Regions from separate parts of the Homo sapiens genome. Here region 2 is linked to region 1. Evidence: fine-mapped expression QTL. A gene starts in region 1. The other region holds a variant in brackets. All regions are shown on one strand. Distances are between the middles of the regions.

Region 1 (11,243 bases):
ATAAGGGGAAAAGTGATGTGTACATACCCTGTGCCATGCACCGTGCTAAGCGTTTTGGCCACGACCTCTCACTTACTCCTCTTTTAGGGTAGGTACTATTAATACCACCATTTTGCAGGTGAGGAAACTGAGATCTTAAATAACTAAACTAAGTGTTGCTGCTGCCAAGTGATGAAATTGGGATCTCTTAACCCACTCCTTTGCTGCCTCTTTGAGATTAAGAGTTACGGACTTGGGGCTGGGCATGGTGGCTCACGCCTGTAATCCCAGCACTTTGGGAGGCCAAGGCGGGCGGATCACCTGAGGTCGGGAGTTCAAGACCAGACTGACCAACATGGAGAAACCCCGTCTCTACTAAAAATACAAAATTAGCTGGGCATGGTGGTGCACGCCTGTAGTCCCAGCTACTCGGGAGGCTGAGGCAAGAGAATCGCTTGAACCCGGGAGGTGGAGGTTGCGCTGAGCTGAGATCGCTCCATTGCACTCCAGCCTGGGCAACAAGAGCAAAACTCCATCCCCCCTACCGCCCCCCCCAAAAAAAAAGAATTAGGGACTTGGAAATTAGAGGAGATTTAAAAAGTTAAATGAAAAACATCCATAATGGTGTATCCATGAAGCCATGACTTCTGACCACACACAACTTAATGTGTATGAGATTTGAGTTTTTTATATCACTAACTTGAACCCCTGTGATTAACCCTGTGGGGTACATGGACTCACCGTAATGGCCTGTGGAAAGCAGGCTGCCCCTGGGGAGGTCAGAGAGGACTTCAGTGTTTGGACAATGACAGGTTGAGAAAGAGGCGAGGGGGACGATTTAATTTTCATCAAATGCGCAGCCTGTAGGATGGGTGTTCTGAGCCCCAAGGAATAAGCCAGGCTCAAAAGCCACAGTCTGGGAGCAGCTTCAGCCAGTGCTTCCAGTAACCACTGGGACTAGGGCTGGCGCCCACAGTGGCATAACTGAGTGGGACCCCAGTGGGTCTCACTGAATAAGACCAAGAGTGCAGAGCGCTCTCCCAGGGGAGTCCGACCACCACTGTCACTGGGTGCTGTCCACCTCTAGGAGTCCGTAAAAGCCAAGAACACTCCCTGGCCCTGGCCCCCACCTCTGCCTGTGTGCATCCCGACATGGGGCTTGCATGGCCAGCCCAGCCTGGACCCACCGCATGGCCTTTGGGCCTGCTGTGCCCCGGGCCTGGTCCCTCATCTCAATTCTTTGCCCCCTTGCCCCCTCCTCCGAGGCCTCCCCCAGCCATCCGCTTACCTTGCCCCCCCCACCTCCCCCTTTCTCCTCACTCATGTTCTCAGTGGCACAGGCTCCCCTGCCTGGTGTGGTCTCATTCAGTCTTCTATCTGTTGTTTGCCTCACCACCCCCATACAGGGAAGACAGGCAGGGGCCTGGTCCGCCCTGTGCACAGCTCTGCTTGACACAGACTCCATGAGACTCCATGTTCTTTTTTTTTTTTTTGAGACAGAGTTTCGCTCTTGTTGCCCAGGCTGCAGTGCAACGGTGCAATCTCGGCTCACCGCAACCTATGCCTCCCAGGTTCAAGTGATTCTCCTGCCTCAGCCTCCTGAGTAGCTAGGATTACAGGCATGTGCCACCACGCCCAGCTAATTTTGTATTTTTAGTAGAGACGGGGTCTCTCCATGTTGGTCAGGCTGGTCTCGAACTCCCGACCTCAGGTGATCCTCCCGCCTCGGCCTCCCAAAGTGCTGGGATTACAGGCATGAGCCACCGTGCCCGGCCACAGACTCCATGTTCTTAACTATACATTGAACAAATGGGGCTTCAGAGATACGCAGCCCTCCCCCACTTCACTGCCTGCCCAACCGTAACTCACAGGCCTTGCCTCCCATTTGTGGCTCAAGCCCAGGATTTGTTTCAAACATTTACTAGCACTTATTTTAGGCAGACACTGCATAAGAAATGGGGACTCATCGTCAAGTGCTCCCTGGCTCCCAAGCTGTGGCAGGCGCATGGATGATGACAGGCTGAAACTTTATTTTAGGTCAATGCTCGTAGAGAGCTCTCCCTGCATTCTAGGTGCTGTTCTCCGGGCCGCATGGATCCGGCACTTCACCGTCACCAGCGTGGAGAGGCGGATGCCAACGGTGCTCCTATCTCCACTCCGCAAATGAAAAGCAAGGCACAGAGACGTTCAGTGACGCCCCCGGCCTCACGCAGCTAGAGAGCTGCAGACCTGGGATTTGAACCAGCCAGGGAGCAGGCTCAAACCTCCACCGCGGTGCCGTCCCTGCCGCAGGATGGTGCAGGGAGGGAGGGGCCAGGCTGAGCAAGCTCAGAAGAATGAGTAAGGGGGGACGAGGCCGTGTGAGTTTCTTGGAGAAGTTGGCAACAGACTGGGGGCCCTTTCGGCTTGCCAGCTTGAACAAATGAAAATAACAATGCCCACAGACTGCATGGAACGTGCTTATACTAAAAATGAAAAAAAAAATCGCTTTATCTGAAGTTCAAGTTTAACTGGGAAACCTGTATTTAATCTGGCAACCTCTAATGTGAGGGAAAGAATTCTTCAAATACCTTTTCAGTTATTAGCTTATTAAACAATCTTACATTTTGTTAAGTTGGTTGGTGCAAAAGTAATTGCGGTTTTTGCCATTACTTTGAATGTAGATTGAAAGTATAACTGAAGCTACTGGATGTAGTTTCGGAGAACTATGATGTTTAAAGTTCACCGTAAAAGGGAACACAGCTTGGAGATTCAGAGCCACGCTCTTCATGCCTAGGCAGACTCACCATTTCTACGCTATTCCTTCCAGCCAGGTTCTAAAAGATGCCTGTGACAAGCTTTGCAATCCTCCGTGAACCCGCACAGGAATAGTTATAGCAGGTTTCTGTGTATTTGCTAAAACGTAGGGGCAACTGAGGGGTCCTGCAGTGCGTGAATGGATAAACCGTGGGACACCAACACGATGGAATATTACTCAGCACTAAAAAGAGAGGACCCTCCGGCCATGGAAAGACATGGAAGAACCTTAAATGCATATTACTAAGCGCGAGAAGCCTGTTTGAAAAGGCTACATAGTGTATGATTCCAATTATTGACTTTCTGGAAAAGAAAAAGCCATGGAGAAAGAAAAGAGACCAGTAACTGCCAGGGGTTAGCAGGCAGGCAGGGAGGGAGGAAGAGGCAGAGCACACAGGATCTGTAGGGCAGTAAAAATATTCTGCCTGATACTCCAGGGATGGGCACATGCCATTATGCATTTGTCAAAACCCCAGAACATACAGAAAGCCTGAGCTCTAATGTAAACCATGGCTGTTGGATGATAACAATGTATCAGTGTAAGTTCATTGTAACAAATGTACCATTCCACAGCAGGATGTTGATAGTGGGGGAGGCTGTGTATAAATGCAGCCGCAGGGGTTGTATATGGGAACTCTCTGTACTTTCTGCTCAATTTTGCTGTGAAGTAAAACTTTTCTTTTTTCTTTACTTTGAAACAGTCTCGCTCTGTCGCTCAGGTTGGAGTGCAGTGGCGTAATCTTGGCTCACTGTAACCTCTGCCTCTTGGGTTCAAGTGATTCTCCTGCCTCAGCCTCCTGAGTAGCTGGGATTACAGGCGCGAGCCACCACCCCCAGCTAATTTTTTGTATTTTTAGTAGAGATGGGATTTCACCATGTTGTCCAGGCTGGTCACAAACTCCTGACCTCAATTGATCTGCCCACCTCAGCCTCCCAAAGTGCTGGGATTACAGGTGTGAACCACCACTCTTGGCCAAACCAAAACTTTTCTAAATGATAAAATCTACCAAAACAAAAAAAAATCCTGAAGTGCCCAAATGCAAATTTACACATATGATTGAGTTTTAAGTATTTGAGTTAAGGTTCAATAGCATCTTCTTTTTTTAAAATTTTATTTTAAGTTCCAGGATACATGTGCAGGATGTGCAGGTTTGTTACATAGGTAGTAAATGTGTGCCATGGTGGTTTGCTGCTCCTGTCAACCCATCACCTAGGTATTAAACCCCACATGCATTAGCTATTCATTCTGAAAGCATCTTCCTTTCATAAAAGAGCCAGTTGATTTTTTCTAAGGGGTCTCTTATTACTACTATTTATTATTTTTATTTATTATTATGTTTTTCAAAGAGGAGTTCTGGCTGTGTCGCCCAAGTGGAGTACAGTGGTGCCATTATAGTTCACTGCAGCCTCAAACTCCTGGGCTCAAGTGATCCTCTGCCTCACCCCCTCAAGGAGCTGGGGGTAAATGCTCTGAGGCACTTCTAACTTGAAAACATGGAACTGAAGAGAATGCCCTTCCTAGCACCACCTGCTTTCTAAAATTGCCACTGGCAGATTGTCCCTGGCGTCTCGTTACCATCTGGGGGCCGTGCCAGGCTGACCATCGGAGAGACTTGGGCTCTGTTTTGAGCACAGCTGGGTAACAGAATCCTGCACACACTTCCACTACTGGCACCAAGTCTACTTGCATAAAACACTCTGCAGATCTACTGTGCTTCCATGAAAGGCGGAAAGGACATCCAACCTCTGTGAGAGATTTTATTTTATCACCTCCAAAATGATGTTTGCACTGCTTTTGCCAGCCTGGTGAAAGACAGGCCCGCCCACAAGCAGAACTGAGGCTCCTCGGTGTCTCTATGTATTAATGTTGCGGACACCACATAGGAAGAGAGAGTTGTGATGGGACCCACAGGAGTTGCAATTAAGCACGTTGTCAGGGCTACACGCTCTGCCCTTTCTCTGCTGGGAGACTCAGGCCAAGCTTCTTTAACATGTCTGAGCCTCTGTTGCCTCCTGCGTAGGAGGCGGGTCACATTTGCCTCTGAGGGTTTGCTGTGAAACATAGTTAGCTATGACTTTTAAGGCGCTAAGCTCAATGCCTGGCATATCGTAGCACTGTTAATTACCATTATTAATTATGTCCTAAGGAGGTCAAACGGCACATTATGAGTTACCAGCAGACATGAGTAAGTCGCTTGTACACGGAACACCATTTTCTGTATCTGTTAAGTAGGCGGGCATTCAAACTCTTTTGTCTGTTTCCCAAGTGTGTTGTGAGGATCTCATAAAGTTTTGGGCATGCAATTTCGAAAGGTGGCAGCCACGTTTTGAGTGCTTGTGATGTACCAGGCACGTGGCTACGGGGATGCCTTCATTCGCTCAGGGAGTGGTTCCTAGTGGCTGGTCCCTGACATCTGTGTGTGTGCTGGGTGGGGGTGTGGGATGTCTTCTTCCTAATAAGTGAATGAACTGCCAGGCTGAACGCCCTCGTTTTCTTCCCGCGGGGCTGGGGCCAGAGAGGGAATGGACGTGACGGTCTGTGCAGCCTGGTCTCCTCGAGCCGCTTCTCGACCCTTAGGTTAGCAAACATGAAAGACATAGACAAGCAGACGCAGGCTGCCACGTTCGTTCTTTCTCAGGGTATGCAGAGGTCAGGGTAAGAATCCACGGGTGTTTCTCAAAGGATGGCCTCTGGCCGTCCGCAGCGCAGTCGCCGGGGCTGGGCTGGCCTCGAATTTCCATCTGCCTGCCGCTTTAAAGAGCTGCCGGCTGAATCCGCTGCACACCCACGTGTGAGCACCTGAGAGTCTGCAGGATCTCAGAGGAGGGAACCGCGTCCTACATGAGGAGCAATCAAGGCCGGCTTTCCGGAGGAGGCGGCCTCTAGGACTGGAAGAGGAGGCGGGATGTGTTTCAACCGGCAATGGGTCCCGAGAGACCAGGGACTTGTTCACTTCAGTAACTCCAGGGCTTGGCAAAACGCCTGTCACGGGCGGCGCTCGACAATGACTAGCTGAAAGCAAGAGCGAAGGGCCTGGGAGCATCCCTGACTGTCCCCGGCGCGGATTTTACCCGCCCGAGCATGCGCGCCTGGGCCTCGCCCGCTCAGCCTCCGCCCCTCCTACCATCGCGCAGGCGCGGAGCGGGTGACGTCACTACGCGCCAGAACCTGCGCCGGGAAGCGTCGCACAGCGACTGCATCACCATGGAGCCGAGGGCAGGTGGGGGGCCTGGCGGGGCTCCGGGGCGGCTGGGAATGGGGAGGGACAGCCGGGACCGGTGAGGGTCGAGGCGGGGCCACCGGGGCTGGCAGAGGATGGGGCAGAATCACCGGAAGCGGCCGAGGAGGTCAGAGGGGGTCTGTGCTGGGTTCGGGTCGAACCAGCGGCTCTCTCGCCCGGAATCCCGAGAAAGATGTCAGGAAAAATAAAGATAACGAGAAGACGAGGCGGGAGGGACACCTGCCGTGCACGTGGGGGAGCCCGTGGGCCCCTTGAGGTCGGGGAAACTGAGGCTCAGGAACAGGATCGGAAGCCGGTTTGACCTACACGCGGGGGTCGCTTAACTACTGTTAAGCGGTTTCAGCATGGGCTCTGGAATTCCTTTGTATGTTATTAAGTGGGAATCTTTTGTTGCAGTAGGTGTCTCCAAACAGGACATACGTGAACAAATTTGGGGCTACATGGAATCACAAAATTTAGCTGACTTTCCCCGACCTGTTCATCACAGGATACCCAACTTTAAGGTACTGACATATTTCTGGAGTCCAGAAAAGGAAAACAAAATATTCTTAAATGAATAACACTAGTAATAAAATTCTCTTACTGCGTCATGGTGGATGAGAATGTGGCGAGCAGTGAGCAGTGGTGTGAAATCAAAGCCATTTGGCCAGGGCGTCCTTAGCATTTAGAGACGTCATTTACTCTTCACCTGGGGCCTCTTGCGTCTCTGTGCAGGGTGGTTTGGTTGTCTCTAGGTGAGGTTGTGTCCAGAATTGGTGGGTTCTTGGTCTCACTGACTTCAAGAATGAAGCCTCGCAGTGAGTGTTACAGTTTTTAAAGGCAGCGTGTCTGGAGTTTGTTCCTTCTGATGTTTGGATGTGTTCAGAGTTTCTTCCTTCTGGTGGGTTCACGGTCTTTGCTGGCTTCAGGAGTGAAGCTGCAGACCTTAGCAGAGAGTGTTGCAGCTCACAAAGGCAGGGTGGACTCAAAGAATGAGCAGCAGCAAGATTTATTGCAAAGAACAAACCTTCCACAATGTGGAAGGGGATTGGAGAGGGTTGTTGCTGCTGGTTCAGGCAGCCTGCTTTTAATCTCTTATCTGGCCCCACCCACATCCTGCTGATTGGTCCATTTTACAGAGAGCCGATTGGTCCGTTTTGACAGGATGCTGATTGGTGCGTTTACAATCCCTGAGCTAGACACAAAAGTTCTCCACCTCCCCACTAGATTAGCTACATACAGAGTGCCCATTGGTGCATTCACAAACTCTGAGCTAGACACAGGGTGCTGATTGGTGTGTTTACAATCCCTTAGCTAGACATAAAGATTCTCCAAGTCCCCACCAGCCTCAGGAGCCCAGCTGACTTCACCCAGCAGATCCCGCACTGGGGCTGCAGGTGGAGCTGCCTGCCAGTCCCGTGCAGTGCACCCGCACTCCTCAGCCGTTGGGCAGTGGATGGCACCAGGCACCGTGGAGCAGGAGCGTCGCTCCTCGGGGAGGCTCTAGCTGCACAGGAGCCCGCCGGTGGGGGTGGGGAGGCTCAGGCATGGCAGGCTGCAGGTCTTGGGGAGGCAGCTAAGGCCCGGCGAGAAATAGAGCACAGCAGCTGGTGGCCCAGGTGCTAAGCCCCTCACTGCCCAGGGCCAGCCGCTGTGAGTGCGGGGCTCCCCACGCCTACATGGAACTCGCGCTGGCCCACAAGCACCATGCACAGCAGCAGTTCCCGCCCGCGCCTCTCCCTCCACACCGCCCAGCAAGCTGAGGGAGCCGGCCTGGGCCAGTCCAGAAAGGGGCTCCCACAGTGCAGCTGCGGGATGAAGGGCTCCTCAAGCACGGCCAGAGTAGGCGCCAAGGCCGAGGAGGCGCCGAGAGGGACCGAGGGCTGCCAGCACGCTGTCACCTTTCAAGGTGGTGCTAGTTGCTGTTTTCTGTTTGATACAAAGTAAAATATTTATCCTGGCCGGAAGCATGTTATTGTCGTAATGGCTTTTCACAAAATTGACCCTGCTAAGAGCGTTAGGGAATGAAGGGGTACTGAACTGGAAGTTCAGGCTCTAGGCCTTTGGAAAGAAATGAATGCCTTGCCAGCCTAAGGATGCTGGGCCTCAGTTTCCCAGCTGATCAAAATGTAAGACAATCAAAGATGGCTGTTCCTAACAGTGTTGACAGAAAAAAAAAAGGTTACTCGGAAGAGGCAATGCAGCAGTTCATCATCTTTGACATGCCTATTTTCCAAGAGCAAAAGAAAGCGCTTTTCAAAAATGCTCTCTGCCCTGAAGGACTTAGCTGTTGGCTTGCTTCACCCCATTTTGTCAGGACTGCCTCTCCCCAAGCCTGGCTTCTCCACAACAAGCTCCACCTTCCCTGGTCCTCAGCTGAGGTGGTTCCAAGACTGTCCTGTCCCTTTGAAAAACTGATCTTTTGATGGTTTTTTGTTGTTACTGTGTTTTGTTTTAATGCTTCTGACCCCAGAGAGAGAAATGTATCTTAACAGAGGTAAAGATGAAGGATGTAGAGAATCATGTAGAAATCTTTAAAAAACGAATCAAACAGGAGAGAGGTGGGGGCTTCCAGGTCATGCTACTGCTTGATTTTGGTGGTGGTTACACAGCAGCCTTCATTTTGTGAAAAATCATCAAATTTTGCCCTTGGGATTTGTATTCTTTTTGGAATGCATGTTTCATTTCAGTTAAAGCTCAAGTGGGATTAGGCTACTTTTCTCAAATCCCTTTCCTTACTTAGACTGCTTCCTTAGATGTTTCTTTGGGTGACTGTTAGTGCCTGTCTGGGTGAGATTCTGGGCCGAGCTGCTTGGGCTGCAGTTGGCCTGAGAGCGTGCTGTCCTTTCAGTAACGTGCGATTGCATTGGAAACAGGGCGCTTCTCATGCTGCCGAGCAACTCCCACGCTTGCAGGCGTTCAAAACGGCCAGGACCATTAAAGTAAATCCTGATGCCCCCCAGAAAAGTGCTCGCTTCTTCGTCCTTGAAGTAAGTGCAACTCTGTCTATTTGCCTAACTAGGGGTCTTATCTGGCTTGCCAAAACATCAAAGACCTAGACGTTTTTGCCAGAACACAGGAAGTTAAAGTGGACCCTGATAAACCACTGGAAGGCGTTCGGCTGCTGGTGCTGCAGGTAATTCCACTTCCCTGAGCCGAGCCGAGACCTGGCCGCCAAGGGGGACACCTTTTCCAGGTAGCTGGTCAGTGCACACGTCTGTCTTGCATTTAGAAAGTCGGTGCTTCCGATTCCCTCCAATACAGAAAGTGCCCTTGGTGGTGATTTTTCCAAGAATAGTTCAGAAGCCCTTCAGCTGTTTAGCAATTCAGTCAATCAGGAGTCCCGAATGCTTCTAAATTCAGAGATAAAGGATGTTCAAAACAATGGCTTCCAGGCCCAGTTGGCACAGGAGAGGGAACCCAGGCAGAACCTGTGGTGTTCCAGAATTGAGGAGCTGGAGCTGAAATAGATGACACCACTTTGCCATTTGAAATGAGCATGCTAACAAGCTTGCTGAACACAGAATCATTTGCTTCTGGATGACAGACGGTCACTTGTCATGTTCTGATACTATAAAGACCACGGTTAAGAACTGGAAAGGTTTCTTCTCAACACTGCTGAACTTTTTAAATTCAGGCATGCTTTTGTAATTTTTATTTTTTAACTTCCTAACCAAACAAACACAAAAACTATGGCGTTGAAGCATTCTCAGTTTTGATGTGCTTCATCAGAGGAGGAAGATTACAAGGAAGATTTAGTTCTTTTTGCCACAGTTGTGGTATTATGATGCTTTGAAACATGATAAATCACGAGTAAGAAGTCTGATGTACCCTCAAAAGGTATCGGTTAGAGCACTTGTTCCTCAACTGAAAACATACAGGCCCCTTTTCAAGGAAAACCAGAAAACTCCCCCAGGGTTGATTTAAATTAGTTTATTATAAACTAATTCAATATGATAAACATAAAACTTGGTATAAATTTTAATGCAGATAGCTTTTATGTAACTATAAAACCAAAATAAGCATATAAGTTAAATACAAACAAAACTATAAAATCAGTAACATTCAAATGGCCCCATTAATTTAACGTAATGGTTGATATGGTTTTGCTGGAGCAAATCGCAGCTGATAACATGAGTATAGTACTGGCCATCTCAGGGCAGAATCGTTGTCATTCTGCCTTAACGCTGCCATGCGTTGTGTGCTGACTCCATTCTCCCACCCAAGTTGCCAAGTCAGACTCCTGAGAAGCCCTGGTGAGAGGGGCACTTTCCACACCTCTTGCCGGAGCTGAGAGGAGGGGTCCAGGCTCGTGTGGGAGATCATTTTGTCTGCTGATGGTGGTTCAGCCCCAAGAGAGACTTCCATGTAGGCTCTTCCAGAAGCATAGCTTCCTGTCAGCCTTATTTTCCCAGTTAATGAATCATTTTAATAAGCTAGAAGTAGTAATAGCAGCAGTAGCAAGGAAGGACGGCAGTCGGCAGTCACTGCATTCGAGGCGCAGTTCTGTCTAAATGTTTTCCCTGTATTATGTGGTTTGGTTCTCTACTACTATGGGAGCCATCTCTGCTCCTCTGTGACACTTGAAACCAGAGACAGAGAGGCTCCACCTCAGGTTACCGCACATCAGTCTCAGTACAGCCAGGATTCTGACTCAGCCACCTGACTCCAGAGCCAGTCCTTGCAAGTGTGAAGTTCAGGGTGTTCTCAGCTGTCAGCCCCTCAGAGCAAAAATCAGAAACCTTGACCGTGTGGTCAGCCTTAGCCAAGATGGCCTGGAAGAGGGGTGCAGCCCTGAGCAAATCCCTGTTGCTTCATGCCATCATTTATTCAGGCTGAAGAAACAACTGCATAAGTAACTGAGCTATCTCCCAGGCTGCGTGCTGGGCATAGGATGTAGTGGTGCAAGACTACACACATGTGGTCCCTGAGTTCTGGTGCTTTCAGGGTCCTCAGTGGTTTTTGGAAACTTTAAGGGACTTAAGGATCAGCTGGGATGCAGGTAAAGATGCAAGTTCCTGAGCCCCAGCTGCATGTGGGCAGGCAATGGTGACATGCACAGCCTCAGGCCACACCTACAGGCACAGCAGCCAGTGTCTGACTGGACAGTCCGCAGTGCTGGGGGCACGCACAACCTCAAGCCACAGCTACAGGCACAGTGGCCAGTGTCTGACCGGACAGTCCGCAGTGCTGGGGGCATGCACAACCTCAAGCCACAGCTACAGGCACAGTGGCCAGTGTCTGACC
Region 2 (11,243 bases), 22 kb after region 1:
TCCTTGGAGACAGTCGTGCGATGTCTCTCCCTGTGACAGCCGTGTGTCAGGTAGTCTGTAGTGGGCTGAGAGCCATTTGGCTGCCTCAGCTCTGTGCCGTAGCAAACCGAAAATGGCTGAAGCCCTGGACCCGCTAGTGTCGAGCAGCCCTGGCCACTGACCAGTGCCTGCCCTTGTCGGGAGTGAAATGCAGAGTCCCAGCCAGCTCCCAGGGCTGAGTGGTGTCCTATGAGTCACTGACAACAGAAGAACGGAACTTCCTGTTGAGACCCGTGGTCACCTGCTGGACCCGAGTGAGCACCTGGACAGCAGCAGCAGGTGAAGCCTCTGTGGGGAGACCCGGGTCTGCCACTGCCGCCGCCACCCTGGAAGCTCTGTTCTGCCCAAGCTGCACCTGGACCGTGGAGACCCACCACACCATTGTAGTGTTTCCCTAGAGCTGGCCTGAGCTGGGGGCAGGAATGATATATGTTAAGAATACCTTGGAGACAGAGAGGAATGGTAGGACATGGCTACAGACTCCAGAACCTCAACTGTGCCGAAGGCAAGGCCAGCCTGAGTGGGAGACTGAGGGCTCAGGAGAAGCCACTCGGGCACCCACAAGCCTGTGGTCCCCGTCACCAGACCCACAAACCAGAGGGCCTTTTGGCCTTTGCCCAGTGGAAGGACTGTCAGTCACACACATCTTCTCACCCGTCCTGTGCTCCTCACCATCAGCACATGGCTCCTGATTACCACGGGGTTGGCGAGGACACCATAGACCAAGGCCCGTGCATCTGACTTTCCTGGGTCAACTCATTTGCTCCTTAATGAGGGAAACTGGATTCTTCCAGAGCCACGCTCGTGCTTATACTCAAGGAAACAATTCTGTAGCTTTCAAAGCATGGCCCGCTCTTCCCCACACAGCCTGCTGGGGAGTGTGGTTCTCAGATGGCCACAGTATGCTGCATGATCTACAGATACCTCAAGAAAAAGGATTTGAGAACAGGGCTCCTCTGTGAGCAGCAGTCCTGGGACAGCAAAGCCCAATTTCAGATCCCGCATAAAACACAATTGTTCTCTGCAAATAATGCAGCTAACTGTGAACCAACCCCTACCCACAACTGGGCCAGTATGTTTAGAGAGCTGAGAGAGGCTTTCATTGAAAAAGAATTACTGTATTTGACCTGATAATTTACCTTCTAGGAATCAGTCCTAGAGAAATATGTAGAAATTCAGATAAGGACTTATCTGAATCTCTATAGAAGACATGCAGTGCCTTAAAATGGGGGTGGGGGGAGTCCATTTAAGTGCATACAGCTTTTTAAAGAATATTTTGTGGCAGGAGAAAGTGCATGTGGTATAAAGTAGAAAAGGCACGATATGATATTATACATGCTTGATATGGAATTTCATATTCTGCTCATGTTAAAGGGCAGAGAGAAAAGACGGCGAGGAAATACAGCAGAATATTAACAGTAGTTGTCTCTGGGAGATAGGATTTCAAACGTTTCTACCTTCTTCCCAAATTTCCCACAACAAGCATATACTAATTTTATAATCAACAATATTTAGGAAAAAAATAGTAAATTTGTTCAATATTTTCCAAGGTAGACATTGCGCCCGGGTGCATTTGAACCCAGTCACACAGCAGCAAGGTAGCTATCTCTGTTCCCAGGGTACCCAGTTAGTAGAAATGAGAATTCAGAAATGAAAATAGTTAAATATGCGCCAGTTCTTAAAACTCACGCACAGACGTGTGTAGGGTGACACCGGAACAGCCAACACGGAAAGCTCAAGCATGTCTGCGTGAGGGGAACCACGCGGCTGCTCTTCTCCGAGGGCTGAAACCCCAAGTGCGGAAGTGAGACAGGAGCTGCTGGTCCCATGCAGGACTCTGTGCGGAGCAGGGGGAGGGAGGCAGCCACTCCCGCGGGCCTCGCAATGAGGGCCAGGCAGGAGCCAAGGCGTGCAGATGGAAGCTGGCATTTCGCAGCGTCAGTTTTAAGGTGATCATGTATACCAGGAAACAGAAATGTTTTTTACTAAATAGTTCTTAGTGACTTCCAGACCCCTCCCAGGTTGAGCCATCCCTTCCTGATGTTGGGGTACAGTCGAACGCAGCGCTGCCTGTGGTCAGGCCCCCTGTTGGGAGATGCAGGCCTTGCCCCTGCTGTCCGTCAGCACTCCCAGTCGAAGCGTGATTGTAAAGGGGTGGCCCTATTGAGCCTTTTTCTACCAACTGACACCTTTGATCAACTATGAACAAAAGGGTTTTCCATGAGCCACGTTGAAGAGATTCTGCCCTTAGAGAGCCAGCAGAGGCTTCGAGGCCTGCCTGGCGTTTATGTTTACGGAAGGCAGCACGGTCCCTTGGCCTTCCCTGTGCTCTCCTCTGAGCATACCTACTCCCTATGGTTATTTCACTGTGGCTATTTGGAAGTGTCTTAAAGCATTTTCCTCAGTGAACAACCAAATTTAGTCTCAGGCAAGAGAACTCATTATTTATGGAGGTTGAACTTAGTATTAGAAATACTTCTGATGTCTGCTCATCTTCACCAGCACGGCTCACGCCTATCATCCCAGCAGTTTGGGGGGCCATGGCAAGAGGATCACTTGAGCCCAGGAGTTCAAGACCAGCCTGAGAAACATAGCAAGATCCCGTCTTTACTGAAAATACAGAACTTAGCTGGGTGTGGTGGTGAGTGCCCACATGTAGTGCCAGCTACTTGGGAGGCTAAGCCAGAAGGATTACTTGGAGCTGGGTATTCAAGGCTGCAGTGAGCTATGAGTTGTGCCACTGTACTCCAGCCTGGGTGACACAGTGAGACCCTGTCTCTTAAAAAAAAAATGAGGGGGATTCAAAGATCATCCTCCCAGTTTCCTTATCTTCAGGTCAGGTAATGCAAGAGTGAGAAAGAAAAGCAGTTTATCCAAAATGGTAAGAGCAGCATGTAGCTGCCTTAAGATTGGAGCCCAGGTGTCTGCTTTTTTGAGCAGTTTCTGACTCTCAATCGGAAATCTTGAAAGTCAGATTTCGGATTCGTATTTGACTTAGCATGTCTAGGGGACAGGTTTTTAAACTTAAAGTTTATTCTATTTTTTTTTTTTAGAATAGAATTAGTTATAAAAAGGCAAAAATGTTTTCTCATGTTTGAGTAACAAGCATAATTTTTCACTTCACATGCCAGATTGACAGAATGTAACAACTATTCCTCATTGCCAGCCAGGAAACAGTAGCACTGCCATGCACTCATCCCAACCATGACGTCCAGACACCCTGCTGGCTGGCACACAGGAGGCTTTCTTGTCAGCTGTGGCAGGGATCGGCGTGGTCATCCAGCTGCTGGCAGAGTGGCAAAGCCGCCCCACAGCCATTAGAGCTTGAGGAGGAGGGAGCTGATGTGAAGCCTTGTCATCCTTTACCCACAAACACTGCTCATGAAAAGAGCGATTTTCCTGCAGTGGAACACACTTCCACATTTCCATTCTAACGGCCCCTGCGGATGCCAGTGTGCCAGTGCCCTGGCCGCCAGTTAGCTCATAATGTGTGGTTAAGATGTTTTCATTATTCTTCAGCCGATTGTATATTTGCTGGCTCAGAATAAAGGAGCTCCCTGTGATGTGCACGGAAGGATATATTTGTCTTTCCCACGGCATGTTTCAAAACAGATTTCTGCCGCAGAACCCCAAGTGTGAAGCCTCGCCTGAGAATGCTCGCTTCTGCCATAGGGAACCTTGAGGTGCTACTGGACACAGATGGGAGGGGAAATAACTCAGGAGGCAGGAGACTGGGCTGGCGCAGCTCCCGATGGACCCCATCAGAAGAGCAGTGCTTACCCGGAGGGTGCATCCTGCCCCCAAACCCCTACCCCTTACTGCACCCCTTACCTTGCCCCCACCCCACCCCACGGGATGCTCTCACCTCAAGGCTTCTGGTGCTGTACTCAGAGCCAAGTAACTTTCAGTTCTTCCAGATAAATGCATAGCCACACTTTTTCTGTCATTGCAATTGCATTTTTAAATTGTATCATCTGTTTCAATACTAAATCTGGTAATTTAAAAGATCCTTCAAAATCAAATGATGACCAGTTTATATCTGTTTTTACATGTTTCAAAAAAAACACAAAAGCCTGAACTTTCTGAGAAGGTGGAATAGAGGTGTAGAAAGAGGTTGGGGTGGTTGGGCTTAGGTCGTTCTCATTCTTCCCCTCCCATCTGTGTCCAGTAGCACCTCAAGCTTCCCTATGGCAGAAGCAAGCATTCTCAGGCGAGGCTTCACACTTGGGGTTTTGCGGCAGAAATCTGTTTTGAAACATGCCGTGGGAAAGACAAATATATCCTTCCGTGCACATCACAGGGAGCTCCTTTATTCTGAGCCAGCAAATATACAATCGGCTGAAGATTCCTTGGGCCTCAGAGCTGGTATGATACTGCTCTGTGAGTTTAGTCTCCTCACAGTGAATCAGTTGAGAAGGATGGCCGAGGGCCCAGTGGAAGAGAAATGCCTTGTGATTAGAAAAGAGCGCATCGTGGATATGTTCATGGCATAGACATGAGTTGTTTTCCTTTGTATCTGAACAATGGGAAATGTTGGCGCAAGTCTTTCTTTGCAGAGTCTTTCTATGACAGCCAAGAGTCTGTTTGCCATTCAAGACCAAAATGAGGCCATGTGCCTGCTACCTGCCAAGGCTTCTGACGTGGCAGTGCCAGGGAGCAGAGTGGCATCCCACCACAGAGGACTCTGACCAAAGCAAAAGCTTCGCCGGGAGGGGAGGTTACTTTCCACCCAGCACTGGGAGACAGAGCCAGGTATTAGATGAGAGAAGACTGAGAGCCTCTAGGTTTGCAGGAATGCACTTGGCTGTTCTTAGGTTTTTGTGTATCTTTAACTGTTACTCTAATTTATTGATGCTTAACTTGGGGCCTGTGTACTTCTTGTAGTTTGGAGGCCCATGAATAGTCTTTATCGACCCTGGGAAATTGTACAGAAAATTGTGGGTGAGTCATTCTTGGGAGGGAACCCCAGCTCCTCACAAAGGCTCCTCTCTCACCCTGCCAAGGATAAGGACCATTGCTCTAAATTACATATTATTCTGAATGTAATGAGAGCATTGATACTAGTTGAACTATTTCATCTTGTAGAACAATTTACAGTTGTCTAGCTCATGTGCTGCCCTGTACTGCGACATATTCACTTCTGTTGGAGGCCTGCAGGTGACCATGGCTTGCCTCTTGATGACCATGCTCATGTGAAAGCTTGGTGCCCAAAAGAAAAATAAAAAGCATCTCTAAAGAATGAGAATTGTCAAAAAGGACTACACAGTGTCTGTCTGTTTCTTTTTTGCACAGGGCACGGTGGTCCAGGCGTCACCTGACTTGTCCTGACCCATAGGCAGCCCCCAGTGCAAACTGCCCCACAGGACAGAGCCATCAGGCCTTCACCATTTAGGCTGCATCAAGCCAGTTCCAGTCTGTTCCAAGGGGCCCGCTGCCGTAGCTAATTGATTAGAAAAATCCAGATAAAGCCAAAGATGTCCTTTGTCTGCAAGTCGCATACAATTGAGACTTAAGTTTCGCATAGCGTTACTGATTTCATAGTTTGATGACCCATCGCTAGGAAGTGTTTTCAAAGCTGTGTTTCAGACTTGCCTTGCTTCTGCATTTTTGGCTGTGCATTGAAGGGGGTGACCCCTGAGAGACGTTCCTTCAGGGGAGAGGAGACCCCTGTGGTCTTATTAAAGTCCTCATCCCACCCAAAGGTACAGGTAGGGGGCAGATGCGGAGGCAGCTCCCCATTATTCTGGGGGGGTCATTAGGGGAGCTGCCTTTTGTGACCCTATAATCCCAATAGTAGCAATCTTAGGTGCCTCTTCTGGGTAGGAGGCCTGAGCAGAGAGCCCCAGCTTTACTTTCCTGCTTCTGGGCCTGGAGGAAAATGGAGGCCCAACCCTGCAGCCTCCACAGCTCGTGGCAAACGCTCCAGAGCCCCCGTGAGTGCTGACTTCCCTTAAGCCAGGGGCGAGGGGCAGAGCTACAGACTGGTGACATCGTCTGTGTGAGATAGTGGGTGGGACAGTGGGAGTCCCATGTCCCTGGGGCTCAGACCACTTGGCATCCAGTCCACGTGTGCAGCACAGCCAGTAGTCAGAGGTGTGGATGCGTGTGTGGCAGGTGCCCCTGCGATTCTGTCCCTGAAAGAGCTGCAACTGCTTTGCTTTTCAGATCAGCCTGGAGATGATGGAGAAAATCCCCATACTGAGGAGCCTCCGCGCCCGAGAGCAGCAGGCTGGGAAGGATGTCACCCTCCAGGGTGAGCACCAGCACCTTCCGGAACCAGGCTGCCAGCAGACAGTGCCCCTGAGTGTTGGCAGGAGGCCCCCGGACACACCCGGACCAGAAACCAATTCCATGGAGGCAGCCCCTGGCTCCCCACCAGGGGAGGGTGCCCCGCTTGCAGCCGATGTTTACGTTGGGAACCTCCCCGGGGACGCCCGTGTGAGTGACCTGAAGAGAGCCCTGCGGGAACTCGGCTCCGTGCCCCTGCGGCTCACCTGGCAGGGCCCGCGGCGCAGAGCCTTCCTCCATTACCCGGACTCTGCCGCAGCCCAGCAGGCCGTCTCCTGCTTGCAGGGCCTGCGCCTGGGCACCGACACCCTGAGGGTGGCGCTGGCCAGGCAGCAGAGGGACAAGTGACCTCGTGGACAGCCACGGAGCTCACTGCAGACTCGCCATCCCCGTCCCCTGCCGCTCCGGTTCCGATGGCACTCGAGAGGCCTGCGTGGCAAGACGTGTCGGAGCCACCGCCTGAGCTGCTCGGGTCTCAATTCTTCTCAGAAGTCACCGCTCAGTGAACGCCCAGGCCCTCCTGTGAGTGGGGAAGCCGCCCTGCGGTTCATCTCACAGCGCGCAGAGACTGCAGCCTCCCAATCGTGCAGGCTCGGGCCTTGAGTCGGTTTCTGTTTCTCTGGAGGGACAGAGCAGAGGGGCCAGGGACTGAGTGAGTGGCTAAGCAGGGGAGGGTGATGTGAAGGTGATCTCGAGTTTGCCAGGGGTGGGCTGAACAGGAGAAGATGAACAAAGGATCCGGCTCTCAAAAGGCCCTGGCAGGGACTGGATGCTGGGTACAGAAGCGCGCCCTTGGGCTTCAGGCTCCTGAGCTGGCAGCACGGCAGGGAGAGCTCCATCCATGTCGCAGGAGCCCAGGAAGCTCAGCCCCTGGGTAAAAAGTGCTCACTGCAGCTCAGATCAGTCCTCAGGTCACATTTCGGGGAGCCAGCCTCCCCTCTTCCCCTCCCCAGCCCCGCTCCTCCCTCTGTGGACACACTCCGGGCCCTCAGCCAGCTGGCTGCATGAGGAGCAGCTTTGTGCTGTGGGAGAGACCGGCTCTGGGAGAATGGGTTTCATCCCAGCCTACGTCACATTTGCCCAGTGCCTTATGTTTTCTGGGTTTTTTTCCTCCAGTTCTGTTTCTAAAAACCAGCTTGAGTTTGGCTGAACTGTCCTTTCTCAACAGAAGCGCTTTTGCAATTGATCCCGGGCAACAAGTCAAAATAAGCTTTTAAGTGGAGATTTTGTTTTTTTCAAATGTATATGCTTTGGAAATTTTGATTTTTTAGCCAGAGGGTTTTACCAAGTGTTCTTTGAAGCACATTACGATGCCTCGAGAGGGCGGCCCGTGCACGCGCTTTCAAGAAAATGTTCTCGGGACACTCGGTCTTCTCTTTGAAAGGACATTTTCTCATTGGTTTTGCCGTGAAAATCCTGTGGAGACTTCGCAAAGAAAACGCAGCCTTACATTTGCTCATTAAAGACAGATTTCCTTCCCAAGTCGCCATGAATAAAATGAGAGAGTAGAAACGTCTGGAAGCGCCACACCTGGCCCTGGGCCCTCGGCCCTCTGTGTCCTTGGCCTTGCCCCCGCCCGCACGGCTGGTCACGTTTGTCATTGGGCATTCAGCTCAGCGTCAGAGGCTGACTCAGTCCCCAGTTCAGAGTAGTCACCTGGTTACACTGAACTCCTCACCTTCTTTTCTCTCTTTTTT[T/A]AAAAAATACTTCTTTTTCTGAAAGATTCTTATTTTTTTTTTTTTGTTTACCTTTTTCCTGTGGATTTGCTGCCGTTAGAATAGCAACTCCAGGAGAAGAGCAAGTGAGTCAGCCCCCCTTCTCCACTCCCTGCCCCACCGGCAGTGGGCACAGCCCTGCAGACAGGAGCAAGGACTTCGGGGAATAGACCCACTGGGGCCGGGAGAGGGAGAAGCTGGATTCTGACCCCACCACTGGCACTCCTGTGTCCAGCCATGCCTGACGCCCACCCCACCCTCAGACGGCGGGATTAAACCAGGCAGTACAGGGTTACTCGGGGAAGCCAGACTGCTGGGATTTCCTGTCGCTTTAGCCAGAATAATCCAGGTATATGGATATACAGATAATCTGAAAGAGTTTCTCATTTTTATATTTGTGGAACATCGTGTAAGAAAAACTGAAGAGCAAGTGCCTGAAATAAAATCCCCCACATGTATCAGCCTGCACACCTTTCACTGCCCTGTCCTTCCCAGGGAGGCCTGTGGGGACAGTTCCCAAGGAGCGTGGTGAGCAGGCAGCAGTGAGGCAGGTGCTCAACAACCCAACTTCTTGTTCCCACGGCTCAGCATCGGGATTGTGTCACTCACACGTGATAAGGGGAGAATGGAAGACAACCACTTGACAACTGCTGAGACCATCCCTCTTATTTTTATATCTGTTATTATTATTTTTTGAGACAGGGTCTTACTCTGTCACCCAGGCTGGAGTGCAGTGGTGTGATCACAGCTCACTGCAGCCTTGAACCCCCAGGCTCGAGCCATCCTCCCTCCTCAGCCTCCACGTAGCTAGGACGACAGGTGTGCACCACCATGCCCAGCTAATATTTTTTAGTAGAGATAGGGTCTCCCTATGTTGCCCAGGCTGGTCTCAAACGTCTGGCCTCAAGCAATCCTCCCACCTTGGCCTCCGAAAGTGCCGGGATTACAGGCATGAGTCACTGTACCTGGCCTGTACCCTTCTTTCTGAGACAATCTCACTCTTGCCCAGGGTGGAGCGCAGGGGTGCAAACTCAGCTCACTGCAACCTCCACCTCCTGGATTCAAGCTATTCTCTTGTCTCAGCCTCCTGAGTAGCTGGGACTACAGGTGCGCACCACCACGCCTGGCCAATTTTTTTTTTTTAAGTAGAGATGGAGTTTCATCATGTTGGCCAGGCTGCTCTCCAACTCCTGACCTCAAGTGATCTGCCTGCCCTGGCCTCCCAAAGTGCTGGAATTACAGGCATGAGTCACTGTACCCGGCCTGTACCCTTTTAAATGAAGCCGTCGTGATTCATGGGTCCTATCTTGGTATCTTCCTAAATGGTGGCGTGGTTTTGCCAGTGGATGAGAAAGACTTGTGCAGAATCTGCAGCTGCAGTTTCCAGAACACATACCTTTGGCTCTGCAACAGTGAGCGCTGGACTCTGGAGCCCAGTAGCCCAGCTCTCACTGCGGGGTGTGGTCCTAGGTGGGTGCTGTGGGCAGGTCACCTACCTGTGCAGGTTTTGGCTTAAGGGGTTGAACTCCTTGGTTTCTAAAGTTCTTACCAGTTCTAATATTCTGAGTTTATTTTGAGACTAACTAGTCCCCATCCCTTAGGTTTTTTGGTTGTCTAATTCCTTCTAGAAATTTTAGAATATGAGAAGGATAAAGAAGGAGCACCACTTGGGCAACCTTGACATTGCCCCTTATTTATTTCCAGGCTTTCTTCTCTGCAGTTTTGAAACATAGCCACGATTAACAACAGGAGCTTCGGAAGCCAGCAGACGTGGCTTTCAGCGTCAGTGCTGCCGCCGTGTGGTGCGGTGGGTGTGCGGTGGCAGCTGCTTCATCCCTCTGAGCCTCCCATTGCTCATCTGTAAGGGGGTGCGGTAGGAGCACACACTGCGGGTTGTGTGAACGTTAGCCGAAACGATGTGCCTGAGGTGCACGGTCACAGCTCAGCGGTGCGCCCGCTGCTGAGGCCAGTCGGCCTGGCCGCCCCAGACCCACTGATTGCCCCCCAGACGGAGGACTTCACTCTCCAAAGGGGTGAGACTGAGGACTCAGCCAGAGGTCCTGCCTGGTGCCCTTGTGTCAAGAGTGGACCCTGGGGCAGAAGTGGTGGTGATGGCCCTGGAGCCATTTCCCAGGTGACAGGGCTGACACGGGAGCCGAGCCCTGGGGAACGTGGGCTGAGAAGCTGGAGCACTGGGCGAGCTCTAGGAGGCTCCTTTGGGCACAGCAGGTGGGAAACGCAGGAAGGAGCCTCCGTTCCTGCTCCAGGAGGGAGGTCAGGTGTCATCTGGCCCCAGCTCACTGGCTTCACCCAAACAGGTGGAGGCGTGTGTGACCTGAGTTCCCCATCTGGGTGAGCCTGGCCACACCCCTCCCCAGCCCTCAGATGGCCGGTCACTGAACTGGAAACGGGCCCCTCCGGGTTGAGCTCTGAAAGCCTGCACCACACGCAAGTCGGAACGCGAGACCTAGGAAGCACCCGTGGGCCTCGTTCCTGGGCAAATATGAAATCGATACAATTGAATAAATAGAAAACAGATCAACATGGGGCCTTTGAGAGACTCAAAGTGAAGGAACTACATCGTGAAAAAGCTTCACTGCAGGAATCGAGAAAATCTCAGGCATCATCCGCTCCTTACTCCTGAGACATGTGAGACGGTTTTCCATGAAAAAAAGTTGTGTTGATGAAGTGTCCTCGAAACTTTATTTAAAAAAAGGTTTTTTAAAAAGGAAAATGTGTCATTTTTTGCTCGTGTCTGCTCTGATCTTAAAATACACAGGAAAACATGAGCTCTAAAAATAGAAGTCCTGTGAGGTGGGTGAGGATCCTAAACAGAGCCTGCAGACAGCAGAAATAAAAAGCTCAGCAGGAGGGGTGGTGATGTTTTTAAAAATACAAATGCATACTCACAACATCAACATTTGTATTAGAAGACGTGATGTGTAGGGAGAAAGAAAATCTGTGAGCAGTAAGACGAGAGTTCTGGAGACCAGGCGGTGGCAAGCCACAGCCAAGCCCGGTGTGGAAGGCAAGACCGCACCAGCATTCAGAAACACGACAGGAGGACGTCCCTGGGCTGCGGAGGCAGCATCTGAGCCAGGGCTTCTCCACACACCTGTGGCAGGAGTCTGGGCCTCGTCTACAGATACGAGCAGGCAACAAGGAGCTGCCGAACATCAGCATCTTGAGACACGTGCTAGC

The links. PIP is the estimated chance that this variant, and not a neighbour inherited with it, causes the effect. A credible set is the group of variants that fine-mapping cannot tell apart.
Region 2: its variant is the best candidate, but not a certain one, in a credible set for the expression of MTHFSD in whole blood (INTERVAL, PIP 0.79).

What each region holds. Positions count from the first base shown.
Region 1 is chr16:86,549,922-86,561,164 of GRCh38, reverse strand. MTHFSD (methenyltetrahydrofolate synthetase domain containing) reads left to right here and starts at 5,930. Exons shown (of 8, transcript NM_001159377.2): 1 at 5,930-5,996; 2 at 6,414-6,520; 3 at 9,019-9,132. The coding sequence starts at 5,981. FLJ30679 (a long non-coding RNA gene) reads right to left here and starts at 5,845. Exons shown (of 1, transcript NR_026674.1): 1 at 3,866-5,845. RefSeq lists enhancers at 5,648-5,937, 5,978-6,027, 6,996-7,658, 7,659-8,323 and a silencer at 5,860-6,073.
Region 2 is chr16:86,527,443-86,538,685 of GRCh38, reverse strand. MTHFSD (methenyltetrahydrofolate synthetase domain containing) reads left to right here. Exons shown (of 8, transcript NM_001159377.2): 8 at 6,205-8,500. The coding sequence ends at 6,675. Among named protein-coding and RNA genes, the nearest start is that of MTHFSD, 22 kb to the left of the region's middle. RefSeq lists an enhancer at 10,649-11,243. The variant T/A (reference allele first, on the strand shown) is at 8,025.